Linked DNA regions of Homo sapiens. The protein of the gene in region 1 purifies or fractionates together with the protein of each later gene. This does not show direct contact. Each region holds a gene or a part of one and is shown in the gene's direction. Other genes may lie near its edges.

Evidence for each region.
Region 2: the proteins of PLEKHA5 (region 1) and ANAPC4 purify together in Homo sapiens (affinity purification with western blotting; one study listed by BioGRID). This does not show direct contact.

What each region holds. Positions count from the first base shown.
Region 1 is NC_000012.12:19,370,733-19,373,816, forward strand, and holds part of PLEKHA5 (pleckstrin homology domain-containing family A member 5), read left to right. Parts: exon of another isoform or gene 1-2,951; intron 2,952-3,084.
Region 2 is NC_000004.12:25,380,263-25,383,762, forward strand, and holds part of ANAPC4 (anaphase-promoting complex subunit 4), read left to right. Parts: intron 1-111; coding exon 112-217; intron 218-2,998; coding exon 2,999-3,131; intron 3,132-3,500. UniProt on the Homo sapiens protein: Component of the anaphase promoting complex/cyclosome (APC/C), a cell cycle-regulated E3 ubiquitin ligase that controls progression through mitosis and the G1 phase of the cell cycle.

The sequences.
Region 1 (3,084 bases):
ATGCTGGAGTGTAGTGGCATAATCACAGCTCACTGCAGCCTTGACCTCCTGGGCTCAAGCAGTCGTCCTGCCTCAGCCTCACAAGTAGCTGGGATCACAAGTGCACGCCACCACACTCGGCTGATATTTCGATTTTCTTATAGAGACAGTCTTACTAAGTTGTCCACGCTGGTCTCAAACTCCTGAATTCAAGCTACCCTCCCACTGCATGAGCCACTGTGCCTAGCCTCTTTGATTTTCACATTCTCAAAATATTTCTTTTATTTTCTCTCCTTTTTTTTTTTTTTTCGAGGCAAGGTCTTACTCTGTCACCCAGGCTGGAGTGCAGTGGTGCAAGATCATGGCTCAATGGCTCACTGAAGGCTGACCTCCCAGGCTCAAGCAATCCTCCCACCTCAGCCCCCTGAGTAGCTGGGACTACAGGTGTATGCCACCATGCCAGGCTAATTGTTTTGCAGAGATGGAGTTTTCACCATGTTGCCCAGGCTGATCTCAAGCTCCTGAGCTCAAGTGATCTGTCCGCCTCAGCCTCCCAAAGTGCTGAGATTACAGGTGTGAGCCACCACACCCAGCCTTTTTTCTTCCTTTTCAAGCATTTTTTAAATTTCACTAGCTTTGGGTACAAGTGGTTTTGGGTTACATGGAAGAATTGTATAGTGGTGAAGTCTGAGATTTTAGTGCACCCATTACCCGAGTAGTGTATGTTGTACCCAATCCTTCACCGACCTTCCACCCTCTCCCTTCTGAGTCTCCAAAGTCCATTATACCACACTGTATGCCTTTGCATACCCATAGTGTAGCTCCAACTTATAAGTGAGAACATATGATATTTGGTTTTCCTTTCCTGAGTTACTTTACTTAGAATAATGGCCTCCAGCTCCATCCAAGTTGCTGCAAAATACATTATTTTGTTCCTTTTTATTGCTGAGTAGTATTCCATGGTGTATATAAACCACATTTTCTTTATCCACTCCTTGGTTGGTGGACTCTTAGGTTGGTTCCATACCCTTGGAGTTGCAAATTGTGCTGCTATAAACATGCATGTGCATGTATCTTTTTTATGTAATGACTTGTTTTCTTTTGGGTCGATACTCAGTAGTGGGATTGCTGGATCAAATGCTGGATCTACTTTTAGTTCTTTAAGGAATCTCCACACTGTTTTCCGTAGTGGTTGTACTAGTTTACATTCCCACCAGCAGTGTAAAAGTGTTTTCTTCTCACCACATCCATACCAACATCTGTTGTTTTTTGACTTTTAAATTATGGCCATTCTTTTTTTTTGTTTTTGAGATGGAGTCTCGCTCTGTCAGCAGGCTGGAGTGCAGTGGCGTGATCTTGGCTCACTGCAACCTCCTCCTCCAGGGTTCAAGTGATTCTCCTGCCTCAGCCTCCCCCGTAGCTGGGACTACAGGCGTGTGCCACCACACCCAGCTAATTTTTGAATTTTTAGTAGAGATGGGGTTTCACCATGTTGGCCAGTATGGTCTCGATCTCTTGACCTCATGATCCGCCCACCTCGGCCTCCCAAAGTGCTGGCGTGACCCACTGCACCCGGCCAATTATGGCCATTCTTGCAGGAATAAGGAGGCATCTCATTGTTGTGTACCTTCTTTTGAGAAATGCCTATTCGCGTCATTTGCCCACTTTTTGATGGGATTATTTGTTTTTGTTTTTTTTTTCTTGCTGATTTGTTTTGAGTTCCTTCCAGATTCTGGATATTAGTCCTTTGTTGGATGCATAGTTTGCAAATATTTCCTCCCATCCTGTTTTCTGGAATCTACTTCCTTTCACACCTTATTGTAGGAACTATAATCTGTGCCCTTTTTTTCAGCCCAAAGTATTTTGTTGTCTTTTCATATTTGTAACTTTTATTTGAGATTATGTCTACCTGGAACCTCAAAGAGGCTTCTGTTTTTGTCAGTTGGTATCTGTGCAGGACTGAAGTGCTTGCTGGAGAGTTACAAATAACCTAACTGTGATAGTCTTACCTGTGTTCTGCCTTTGTCACTTGTGTTTAAGCCTTTTTTCTTTTTTCTTTTTTCTTTTTTTTTTTTTTGTTGAGACCAGGTCTCACCCTGTCACCCACACTGGAGTGCAATGGTGAGATCTTGGAGCCTTGCCCTCCTGGGCTTAAGTGATCCTCCCACGACAGCCTCCCAAGTAGCTGGGACCACACGCCTGTGCCACCAAGCCTGGCTGATTTTTTTGTATTTTTTGTAGAGTAGGGGTTTCACCGTGTTGCCCAGGCTGGTCTCAAACTCCTGAGCTCAAGCGCTCTGCCCGCCTCAATCTCCCAAAGTGCTGAGATTACAAGATTGAGCCATCACGCCTGGCTATGTTTAAACTTTTAATTTAATATGTTTAGAAATGACTGTTGAGGCCAGGTGCGGTAATGCCAGCACTTTGGGAGGCCAGGGCTGGTGGATCACTTGAGGTCGGGAGTTCAGGACCAGCCTGGCCAACATGGTAAAACCCCATCTCTACTTAAAAATACAAAAATTAGCTGGGCATGGTGTCAGGCGCCTGTAATCCCAGCTACCTGGGAGGCTGAGACAGGAGAATCGCTTGAACCTGGGAGGCAGAGGTTGCAGTGAGCCGAGATCACACCATCGCACTCCGGCCTGGGTGACAGAACAAGACTTTGTCTCAAAAAAAAAAAAAAAAATCTGGGTGTGGTGGCCCACACCTGTAATCCCAGCACTTTGGGAGGCCGAGGCAGGCAGATCACCTGGCTCCTGACCAGCGTGACCAACATGGAGAAACCCAGTCTCTACTAAAATTACAAAATTAGCTGGGCGTGGTGGCACATGCCTGTAATCCCAGCTACTTGGGAGGCTGAGGCAGGAGAATCGCTTGAACCCAGAGGCAGTGGTTGCAGTGAGCCGAGGTCGTGCCATTGCACTCCAGCCTGGGCAACAAGAACGAAACTCTGTCTCAAAAAAAAAAAAAAATGGTGACTGTTGCTACTGGTGACGTAATAACACAAAACATAGGAAAAATAAACATTGGACTCATTTGATTTCATCTATGTAAAGACTTGATGACCTCTTAGTAGAAAAATGTATACATTAAGAGCCATTCACA
Region 2 (3,500 bases), on another chromosome or scaffold:
AAGTATATATGAGAGATGGTCATTTAAAAAAATTTTTAGTAGGGATCTAGGTTTATTTTATTTTTGGAAATGAATTTTTAATTTCCTGCCATTATATCTGCTTTGTCTTAGGTTTTACTTCATCGACTGGCAAGTTTTCATCGAGTTTGGAGTTTTCCACCAAATGAAAATACAGGAAAGGAGGTGACGTGTCTGGCATGGAGACCAGATGGCAAACGTAATGATAATATTACAAAAAAAATATGTTTTTATTTTCACAAAGAGTATTCTGTAAAGCCCATTTTCAGAAAGGATTTATTGTTCTTAGTATACATAAGAATTATAAATATCACTTTGGGAACTTTTTAAAAAAAATGCCTTAAAATATTTTTATAGAACTCAGATTAATTCTGCTATCTTGTTTCTTGGCAAAGATATCTCTTAAATAAAATCTGGCTTCTTGGCAAAGATAACTCCGAAGTGAAATCTGATGGAATATACAAAATGTTTTGGTTTTGTTCTTTCCACTGTCATCTTGTCCTGTATTATTTGGCCCAAGCACCACTTGCCACTCGCCAGTGAGTTAGTTCAAAGCCATCATGGCCTTTTTCTTTCACAATATATTTTAGCATGAAATGTGTGGCTCATATTCCCTTGGTGCATGTGTGTTTGCCTCACCTGGGGGACTATCACCTTTGACCCCATACCTTCCATTTCTGTGTGTGATCTTTCTTCTGGTACCCTCTTACGTTAAAGCCTGTTATGGCTCTGGTGACTGAACTCTCCTTTTCCATGTAATGTTTTTACAATGACAGTCTGTATTGGAACTGTTGTACACATACAATCAGCACAGTAAAATGCTGTAAACCCTACAGCTTAAAGTTCATTTGTATCATTGGTACTTTAAGAAAAAAGTGAACTGTTTTTGTAAAATATGTGTTGTTCTTTGCTTAATTTTTCTGTAGATAAATATAAAGTATTTAAAAATTTTATTGGTGCTTTAAGAAAAAAAGTGAATTGTTTTTGTAACATATATGCTCCTCATTGCTTTTTCTTTTCCCCCCCAGACAGTGTCTCACTCTTGTCGCCCAGGCTGGAGTGCAGTGCAGTGGTGCAATCTCGGCTCACTGCAACCTTGGGCTCACTGAAACCTTCACCTCCCGGGTTCAAGCAATTCTTCTCCCTCAGCCTCCTGAGTAACTAAGACTACAGGCGTGCACCTTCATCCCTGGCTAATTTTTGTGTTTTTTGGTAGAGAAAAGGTTTCACTGTGTTGGCCAGGCTGGTCTCGAACGCCTGGCCTCAAGTGATTCGCCTACCTTGGCCTACTACAGTGTGGGGATTACAGGCGTGAACCACTGCACATGGCCTTCATTGCTTAATTTTGTCCCTACATAAATATAAAAAAGTACTTAAAAATTCCCTAGGTGGGGCATGGTGGCTCACGCCTGTAATCCCAGCACTTTGGGAGGCTGAGGTAGGTGAATCATGAGGTCAGGAGTTCAAGACCAGCCTGGCCAATATGGTGAAACCCCATCTCTACTAAAAATACAAAAATTAGCCAGGCGTGGTGGTGGGCACCTGTAATCCCAGCTTCTCAGGAGGCTGAGGCAGAGAATTGCTTGAACCCGGGAGGTGGAGTTTGCAGTGAGCCAATATCGCACCACTGCACTCCAGTGTGGGCTACAAGAGTGAGACTCCGTCTCAAAAAAAAAATCCCTGAAAGCAGATAACTTAGAGATGACAGTTGTTTCTGTTTTGGTGAACATCTTTTCCAATATTTCCCGATAAAATACATACATGTAGAGATCTATATATAATTTTATCAAAAGACAGTTATTTGGTGCATACCATTTTGTTGTATAGCTTTTTCTTTTTTTTCCCCCCCCTCACTTTTTCCCATGTCAGTGTGGATAGATTGACCACATTAATGTTAATTGCGTACTAACCCACTATATTTATATATTGTAATTTACTAAACCTGTTGCCCTTTGGTGGATATTTAGATGGTTTTCAGTTTTTGGCTTTGATAAGCAATGCTGTGTAAACATTCTGAACACTGGGAAGAACTTTGCCAGTAGCTCCTTAGATTAACACCCAAAATGGAATTTCTGGAAATGTCTTAAACATTCTATGCTCATTCTGTAGTCATTTTGCTTGGAGTATATGTAGAATATGTGTAAGATTAGAGGACTTTTATAAGTAAAGTTATGAGATCTTGCACTAAATCATTCAAAAACATGGAATCTCAAAGATAAATCACAAAAGTGTGCGTTAAAATGTTTATAAGTAGTTGTATTATTCATTTTTTAAAAGTCTCATGTTTTTGGACAGTAAAATGTGTTTTTTGTTAGATAATGATCATTTCAAGTTTTAAATTGTTTTTAAGTAAGAAGGCTGGGATTGGTTCACATCTGGCAAAGTTGCATGTGATGGTGATATGCAGTGAAACTCACTGCCCTCTTTTTGGAAATTCTTAAATTCTTAAATTGCACGTTAGGAAGAAATAATGACTTGTGTGGAGAAACCATACTAGAAAATTCAGCCACACTCAAAGGAAGATTTATGTGTGTTTAATGGCCTCGTTTCCCACCATCGTTTAGAAACATAAAAGAGGAATAAAAAGCATTCCAAGAACAAAGCAGATGGAATCATTGCTTACCTTTTAGACATGTGATAACATATAATTGTTTATTTGTTGAAGCCTCTTTTGTATTTTCTGCTTGACAACAGGGTTTCAAGTCTGGAAACTTTGATGTGTAAGACGTTAAGTGTGCTACGTGAGAAAGTAGTAGATCTCCTATAAAGTTTGAGCACTTGAAAATAAGCTTAGTTAATGTAACTACAATATATGCAAATATTTCTTTTTTTAGTTTTTAAAATATTGAAGGATGTTTAGGTCAAAAATTGCCATGATGAAGATGCACTTAAAAGAGTAAAACTGGGCAATAAGGGAAATACCCATTTATTTTTCTCAATTGTTACACTAATTTATTCTGATTGTTTTTTCTTGTTTTAGTTTTGGCCTTTGCTCTTGCTGATACCAAGAAAATTGTTTTGTGTGATGTAGAAAAACCTGAGAGCTTACACTCTTTTTCTGTGGAGGCTCCAGTTTCCTGTATGCATTGGATGGAAGTGACAGTAGAAAGCAGGTAATTAGAAAAACTTATGTAGTCATAGGGTATTCATGAGATTTTTATTTTTTGAAATGGAAACTTAGGAGTATCTGAGTATTGGGTGTATGTGCGTTGTATTTAAATTTTGGTTTCAGTTTATCAAGATGAAATTTTTTAATGCTTTCTTAGATTTTTTTTTTCCTTCCGATAAACATCTATAGGCATACCTCAGAGATATTGTGGGCTTGGTTCCAGACCACTGCAATAAAGTGAACATTGCAATAAAAGCAAGTCATTTGAATTTCTTTGTTTCTCAGTGCATGTAAAAGTTATGTTTATATTATGCTATAGTACATTTAAATGTGCAATGACATCATGTCTAAAAAAATTAAGCATGTAACTTAA